Linked DNA regions of Homo sapiens: all the other regions are linked to region 2. Evidence: fine-mapped expression QTL. A gene starts in region 2. Each other region holds a variant in brackets. All regions are shown on one strand. Distances are from middle to middle.

The links. PIP is the estimated chance that this variant, and not a neighbour inherited with it, causes the effect.
Region 1: its variant is fine-mapped to the expression of NFKB1 in whole blood (INTERVAL, PIP above 0.99). The same link has a PIP of 0.9 or more in CD4 T cells.
Region 3: its variant is fine-mapped to the expression of NFKB1 in whole blood (INTERVAL, PIP above 0.99).

The regions. Positions count from the first base shown.
Region 1 is chr4:102,526,320-102,529,078 of GRCh38, forward strand. The region is part of intron 2 of NFKB1 (nuclear factor kappa B subunit 1); the gene reads left to right. Among named protein-coding and RNA genes, the nearest start is that of NFKB1-AS1, 25 kb to the left of the region's middle. The variant A/G (reference allele first, on the strand shown) is at 1,655.
Region 2 is chr4:102,499,860-102,502,618 of GRCh38, forward strand. It overlaps NFKB1 (nuclear factor kappa B subunit 1), which reads left to right and starts at 1,500. Exons shown (of 24, transcript NM_003998.4): 1 at 1,500-1,929. NFKB1-AS1 (NFKB1 antisense RNA 1) reads right to left here and starts at 2,627. Exons shown (of 5, transcript NR_136202.1): 1 at 2,580-2,627. RefSeq lists silencers at 1,180-1,439, 1,450-2,019 and an enhancer at 2,130-2,179.
Region 3 is chr4:102,478,667-102,481,425 of GRCh38, forward strand. The region is part of intron 1 of NFKB1-AS1 (NFKB1 antisense RNA 1); the gene reads right to left. Among named protein-coding and RNA genes, the nearest start is that of NFKB1, 21 kb to the right of the region's middle. RefSeq lists an enhancer at 1-271. The variant G/C (reference allele first, on the strand shown) is at 1,050.

The sequences.
Region 1 (2,759 bases), 26 kb after region 2:
AGACCATGGAGATTCAGAAAGGTGAGGGATGGGAGGGCAGTGGGATGGGGGTGGATGATAAGAAGTTACTTAATGGGTACAATGTATGTTATTTGAGTGTTGGATACCCTAAAAACCCTGTTTTGACTACTATACAATCTATGCATGTAACAAAATTGCACTTGTACCCCATCAATTTATACCAAAAAAAAATTTTATTTAAAACTCATCTAGTAAGGAGACAGATTGTTGTAGTGAAAAGATCTTTGAACTCAGAATTTGAAGATCTTTATATAAGTACTGACTACTACAGATCAGCTCCTCAGACTTGAAGAATCACTTAGTCCCCGTAATCCTCACTTTTCTCATTTGTAAAATAGAAATGCTAGCACCACACTAACAGGGATGAGTCAAAAATATTCAATGAATGTGCTTTGTAAGCATAAAACTGTTCCTATCATTATATTAGTAGTTATGAAAGGATAGCAGTGTCCTTTTTTCTTTTTCTCCTATATTTTATTTTGAAAAATGTTGGAAAAAATAAATAGAAATGTTGGAATAATCTAACAAATCTACATTGGTTCTTAAAACCGACATTTTCGCTTTTCTCTTTGCTCTCTTTTTCGTGTGTGTGTGTGTGTGTATATATGTATATATGTATATGTATATACATAATCATTTGGAAGCAATTTTCAGACTCTGGAGCAATTATAATGGCAATATTAAATTATTTATGTAATGATTCCAAGAAGTATTTAAAACATGGAGATTTGTTCATTCATCAGCTATTTATTGAGGTATTACTACGTGCCAGAACATTGGCTTAGTGGGGAAAAAATAAGTGATATATACACTCTAATTTCAGGAACCTACTATTTTAATAGGAAGAACAGAGACATTGTTTTCATATGGTGATATATGCTGTAGTAGTAGTCTGCGCAGAGCGGGATAGAAATGTTAATAAGCAGCATCACTAGGTGCTACCTTGGAGGAAGAGCAGAGTTACGGAGGACTTTCCGAAGGAAGTCTTCGTAAGCTGTGTTTTGAAAGATGTAGTTTGCTAGACTAGAAAAGGTGAAGGAACACTAGGTGCCAGGATAGCCTGGTCACATTTAAATTTTAGTGGAAATCATTTAAAATAGTGGATTTCTGAAATTACACGTGCAAAGAATCAGCCAGAAAAATAAAAACAGAAGTGGAATATGTTTTAAAGGCTCTGGTATCATTTCTATAAATAAAATGGACATATATAGCATTTATCACTTCGGGTGATATTCTGATTGATTTAGAAAGAATGACTGCATTGCTTTTCACATTAAGATGCTCCTTTCTAATTTTATTTTTAAAATGGTGATTTAGGATAAATCTAGGAACATTTTCTTTTATTGCAGCAAAGACATTTGGCTAATTGTATTATCAAAACCGTTTGTTTTACCTTTCGCTTTTATTGTGCTTTCTCTAACAATTAAGGGCGAACTAACCAGCATGAGGATTGTGTCTGCTTGATTTTAAACCATCCTTTCCTGTCTGTACACAGGAAATCTTATCAACAAGAGATGATTCTTTATGCCACAGAAGAGTAAAATCTGCTGAAAACATTCATTTTGAAAGTTTTTCTTATGTGGGCATCTTTGCGATCATCAGTAACAGGGGTGGGGCATATTCTGACATTTCC[A/G]TTTTTGAGGCAAGCGGTCTTGAAGTTTTTTTCTTTCTTGGCTTGAGCTTGGTGGTTTATATTTCCTAAAGTTTGCATGTCCTCAGTGTTTTAGTGGAGTCTGGAATTTGCTCTCCACCCTGACCTAATAAACAATGCAAGCTGCAGCACAACACAACTTCTCTCTTAGTCTGAAGTGAAGAGTATATCTCTCTCCTAAGGTGAGCCCTTTTGCCCACTCGCCAGTCATTTAGCCACCACAGGAAAGAGTTTTCCTGCTAGGTTATCACGTTTGCTCTGAGACTGTTAAAATCCTGTATGAAATGAGGCCCATTTTTGCAGAACATGGTTTTTCATTCCTGTATTTCCTTTTCAGCAAACAATGAATAGCATCAGTGAGCTTTTAATCTTATAAGCATTGAAGTGAAGCGCATTCTTTGTTCCTCAGTTGAAAATTTGCATCCCTCAAATGGATCTGAAGTACTGTTTATTTAAACGAGATTTTTCTTACTCTTAATTTAACTAGGCATACGAAGATCTTCAGTACCCCAGAACTTTCAATAATTTACTACTAAGGGCAGGAGACAAACTGTAATACTGGCTACTAAAAGAAACGAAAAGCTAGTTCAGCACACTTACTAGTCTCTCATAAAAAGTAAAATATGGCTGGTTTCCATGCTGTCCACAGACATTTCAAACATATAACTTCTTTAGGCTAAAATAAATAGCAAGCTCAGAAATACAGTTTTAAAGTCCTAAATGAGCCAGCGGTTACAATGTTTTTTGATAAGTAATGAATAGTAATTTATTAAGATAAAATGTACTTTCTTCAAAATATTCTGCATGCCCACTCTGTTGCTGCCCTAACACATTACCACATACTTGGGGCTTAAAACAACACAAATTTATACTTCTGAGTCAGGAGCTCAGAAATCTAGAATCAAGGTGTTGGCAGGGCTGCTTTCCTTCTTGCAGCTCTCATCTCTTTGCCTTTTGAGCTTCTAGTGGCTGCCTGCTTTCCCTGTGCACCCTCTCATCACTCCAGCCTCTTGCTTCCTTTGTCATACTTCCTACTATTCAGTGTGATTTCCTGAACCCCTCTCATCAGGCCCACCTGGACAATTCA
Region 2 (2,759 bases):
AATTTTTTTGTATTGTTAGTAGAGATGGGGTTTCACCATATTGGTCAGGCTGGTCTCAAACTCCTGACCTCAGGGGATCCACCCGCCTTGGCCTCCCAAAGTGCTGGGATTACAGGTGTGAGCCACCGCACCCGGCTCACAGAATTTCTTAAAAAGTCATTGTGTTCAGTCTTTATGGATCCTCTAAATTCCAGCTGCTCAGCCTCCCGGAGCTAAATGAGATCACTTAAAGGTCGACTGTTGGGGCCTCCAAGGTCGCCTCGGAGACTCACCTCATAGGCAATCAAATGGATCGCTGGGTTTTTGTGTGTGTGGGTTTTTTTTGTTTATTTTTTTTTTCCAGAAAAACACTCCACCAAGAAGGTTTTTATAACCTACTGGAGGAGGAGGATGGAGAGTGGGCACGAAAGGACTAGGATGAACATGCCATAAGCAATCTAAATGCCACTGCAATATTGCCTGGTGAGGACCTGATTACTGATGTTTTAAAGCTAAGCTTTCAGTTGTCACTCCACCCAGTAGTGAAACAATGAGCTCTAAAATATATATTTCGGCTCAAGCTTTCTTATGTGGGGAGGTAATCCACCCGAAGGTATCCCCAGCCTGTACCTAATACAGTGCCCAGCACTAAAGCAGCTCAGATGCCAGTGAATGGTGGCCACTGGGAGGCCTGTCAGTGGGTGCCAGTAGCGGTCTCTTCAGAGAAAAAGAAAACTCCCCTCTGCCAGATCAGTATTTTATGAGCTGTGAACCAAAACCATTGCTACCACCATCACTATAATTCTATCCACAGTAATTATCATAAAGGCCTAACAATGCCTTGTAGATGAACATTCTGAGTAACTGCTCTATAACCAGGAGATTTAAGACCGCACCAAAAACCAGTAGAGGGTTATACTTTACTGGGCACAAGTCGTTTATGATAACGAAATTGTAGTTTAATCTGTGAAGAGATGTGAATGTAACTGAGACACGCTTAAATGGAATATACAGATGAGCTTTATTTTTATATCTGGCATGCTTGGATCCATGCCGACCCTCCAGCTGCTCGGGCCTGCCCTTAGGGGCTATGGACCGCATGACTCTATCAGCGGCACTGCCACCGCCGCCGCCTCCGTGCTGCCTGCGTTCCCCGACCATTGATTGGGCCCGGCAGGCGCTTCCTGGGGGCTTCCCTACCGGCTCCAGCCCTTGGGATTCGGGAGCGCCCTGCTAGGAAGCCAGAGCCCCGCAGGGGCCGCGGCGTCCAGGCCGCCTAACGCGCGCCCCTCGCCCGGCGCCCCGAAGCGGCCCCGAGGGGCGGGAGCCGAGGCGAGCGGCAAGGCCGGGCCGGGGGCGCACAGCGCCCCTAGAAGTGCGGGCTTCCCCCACCCCCGGCAGCGACCCTACCTCCCGCCCCCGCTGCGTGCGCGCGTGTGTCCGTCTGTCTGTATGCTCTCTCGACGTCAGTGGGAATTTCCAGCCAGGAAGTGAGAGAGTGAGCGAGACAGAAAGAGAGAGAAGTGCACCAGCGAGCCGGGGCAGGAAGAGGAGGTTTCGCCACCGGAGCGGCCCGGCGACGCGCTGACAGCTTCCCCTGCCCTTCCCGTCGGTCGGGCCGCCAGCCGCCGCAGCCCTCGGCCTGCACGCAGCCACCGGCCCCGCTCCCGGAGCCCAGCGCCGCCGAGGCCGCAGCCGCCCGGCCAGTAAGGCGGCGCCGCCGCCCGGCCACCGCGCGCCCTGCGCTTCCCTCCGCCCGCGCTGCGGCCATGGCGCGGCGCTGACTGGCCTGGCCCGGCCCCGCCGCGCTCCCGCTCGCCCCGACCCGCACTCGGGCCCGCCCGGGCTCCGGCCTGCCGCCGCCTCTTCCTTCTCCAGCCGGCAGGCCCGCGCCGCTTAGGAGGGAGAGCCCACCCGCGCCAGGAGGCCGAACGCGGACTCGCCACCCGGGTAAGCCAAACTCGGGCGAGTGGGGGCCCGGCAGGGGACGCGTGGCCCAAGTCCTGCCGCCCAGCCCTCCGCACCCCCTCCAGCCCCACTCGGACTTCCTCATTCCTGCGCTAACCGCTGGGCTAGACCGTGGGAGGAGGTTGACAGTAGCTGAGAGGCACATGGGATTAGCGACAGCGGGGAAAGACACATCCGGACCTCGCAGGGGCTAGTCGGCCGAAGGGCCGCGGCCGCCCGGCGGTCATTTCTCTTCACGTCCCTCCGCGGGGCGGGAACGCGAACCGGAGGGGAACTCTTACAAACTTTTAAAATCCCCAACCCCAGCCCCACCTGGGGGATGGTGAGAAGGTTGGAGTGCGCTGCGGCGCGGAGGAGAGAGGGAAGGTGGTTGGTGCAGTGCAGAACCAGATTTCACCTAAGGGCGTTCCATGAAATGAAAGCAGAAGTGCTTGTCAGTCCTCTTGGCTGGGAAAGCCCTCCCCAGCTCCCCAGAATTGAATAGGAGAGTCTATTCATCCCTCTCCTACTTCTAAAAGAAACCTGGCTCGCTCTCTGTCTCTCTCTCTCTCCCCCCTCCCCCCCTCCGTGCGCGCGCGCGCGCGCACACACACACACACACACACACACACACACACACACGATATAGTCACCTGCTATAGGACTTGATTCTGATCCTCCGGGGCCTGGCATTTGAGAGAGAAAATAAATTACCTACCTGGATACTTAGAGCACTTTTTAGACTTGATTATGTAAAACTCTTGGACAGTGCCACCATGCATTATGCATGACCGCTGAAACAAAAATAATGTAAAAACAAGGCCTATCCTAAA
Region 3 (2,759 bases), 21 kb before region 2:
GAGGAAGGATCAGGCAGCAATATTTGCTGTTCTGCATTATTTGCTGTTCTGCAGTTTCCACTGGTGACACCCAGGCAAACAGGGTCTGCAGTGGACCTCCAGCAAACTCCAACAGACCTGCAGCTGAGCAACCTGACTGTTAGAAGGAAAACTAACAACAGAAAGGAATAGCATCAACATCAACAAAAAGGACATCTACACCGAAACCCCATCTGTAGGTCACCAACGTCAAAGACCAAAGGTAGATAAAACAACAAAGATGGGGAGAAAACAGAGCAGAAAAGCTGAAAATTCTAAAAATCAGAGCGCCTCTTCTCCTCCAAAGGATTGCAGCTCCTCGCCAGCAACAGAACAAAGCTGGACTGAGAATGACTTTGACAAGTTGACAGAAGTAGGCTTCAGAAGGTTGGTAATAATAAACTTCTCCGAACTAAAGGAGCATGTTTGAACCCATTGCAAGGAAGCTAAAAACCTTGAAAAAAAGGTTAGATGAACGGCTAACTAGAATAAACAGTGTAGAGAAAACCTTAAATGACCTGATGGAGCTGAAAACCCATGGCATAAGAACTTCATGAGGCATGCACAAGCTTCAATAGCTGATTCAATCAAGTGGAAGAAAGGGTGTCAGTGACTGAAGATCAAATTAATGAAATAAAGCGAGAAGACAAGGTTAGAGAAAAAAGAGTAAAAAGAAATGAACAAAGTGTCCAAGAAATATGGGACTATGTGAAAAGACCAAATCTACATTTGATTGGTGTACCTGAAAGTGATGGGGAGAATGGAACAAAGTTAAAAAACATTCTTCAGGACATGATCCAGGAGAACTTCCCCAACCTAGCAAGGCAGGCCAACATTCAAATTCAGGAAACACAGAGAACACCACAAAGATACTCCTCGAGAAGAGCAACCCCAAGACACATAATTGTAAGATTCACTAAGGTTGAAATGAAGGAAAAAATGTTAAGGGCAGCCAGAGAGAAAGGTCAGGTTACCTACAAAGGGAAGCCCATCAGACTAACAGCAGATATCTTGGCAGAAACCCTACAAGC[G/C]AGAAGAGAGTGGGAGCCAATATTCAACATTCTTAAAGAAAAGAATTTTCAACCCAGAATTTCATATCCAGCCAAACTAAGCCTCATAAGTGAAGGAGAAATAAAATGCTTTACAGACAAGCAAATGCTGAGACATTTTGTCACCACCAGGCCTGCCTTATAAGAGCTCCTGAAGGAAGCGCTAAACATAGAAAGAAACAAACAGTACCAGCCACTGCAAAAACATGACAAATTGTAAAGACTACTGATGCTAGGAAGAAACTGTATCAATTAATGGGCAAAATAACCAGCTAGCATCATAATGACAGGATCAAATTCACACATAACAATATTAACCTTAAATGTAAATGGGCTAAATTCTCCAATTAAAAGACACAGACTGGCAAATTGGATAGAGTCAAGACCCATCATTGTGCTGTATTTAGGAAACCCATCTCACGTGCAGAGACACACATAGGCTCAAAATAAAGGGATGGAGGAAGATCTACCAAGCAAATGGAAAGCAAAAAAAAAGCAGGGGTTGCAATCCTAGTCTCTGATAAAAGAGACTTTAAACCAACAAAGATCAAAAGAGACAAAGAAGGCCATTACATAATGGTAAAGGGAGCAATTCAATAAGAGCTAACTATCCTAAATATACATGCACCCAATACAGGAGCACCCACATTCAAAAAGCAAGTCCTTAGAGACCTACAAAGAGATTTAGACTCCGACACAATAATAATGGGAGGCTTTAACACCCCACTGTCAATATTAGACAGATCAGCAAGACAGAAGGTTAACAAGGATATCCAGCACTTGAACTCAGCTCTGCACCAAGCATACCTAATAGCCATCTGCAGAACTCTCCACCCCAAATCAACAGAATATACATACTTCTCAGCACCACATCGCACTTATTCTAAAATTGACCACATAATTGGAAGTAAAGCACTCCTCAGCAAATATAAAAGAACAGAAATCACAACAAACTGTCTCTCAGACCACAGTGCAATCAAATTAGAACTCAGGATTAAGAAACTCACTCAAAACCACACAACTACATGGAAGCTGAACAACTTGCTCCTGAATGACTACTGGGTAAATAATGAAATGAAGGCAGAAATAAAAATGTTCTTTGAAACCAATGACAATGACAACAAAGACACAAAGTACCAGAATCTCTGGGACACATTTAAAGCAGTGTGTAGAAGGAAATATAGAGCACTAAATGCCCACAAGAGAAAGTGTGAAAGATCTAAAACCAATACCCTTACATCATAATTAAAAGAACTAGAGAAGCAAGAGCAAACACATTCAAAAGCTAGCAGAAGGCAAGAAATAACTAAGATCAGAGCAGAACTCAAGGAGATAGAGACACAAAAAGCCCTTCAAAAAATCAATGAATCCAGGATTTGGTTTTTTGAAAAGATCTACAAAATTGATAGACCACTAGCAAGACTAATAAAGAAGAAAAGAGAGAAGAATCAAATAGACGCAATAAAAAATGATAAAGGGATATCAACACCAATCCTGCAGAAATACAAACTAGCATCAGAGAATACTATAAACATTTCTATGCAAATAAACTAGAAAATCTAGAAGAAATGGATAAATTCCTGGACACATACACCCTCCCAAAACTAAACCAGGAAGAATTTGAATCTCTGAATAGTACAATAACAGTTTCTGAAATTGAGGCAATAATTAATAGCTTACCAACCAAAAAAC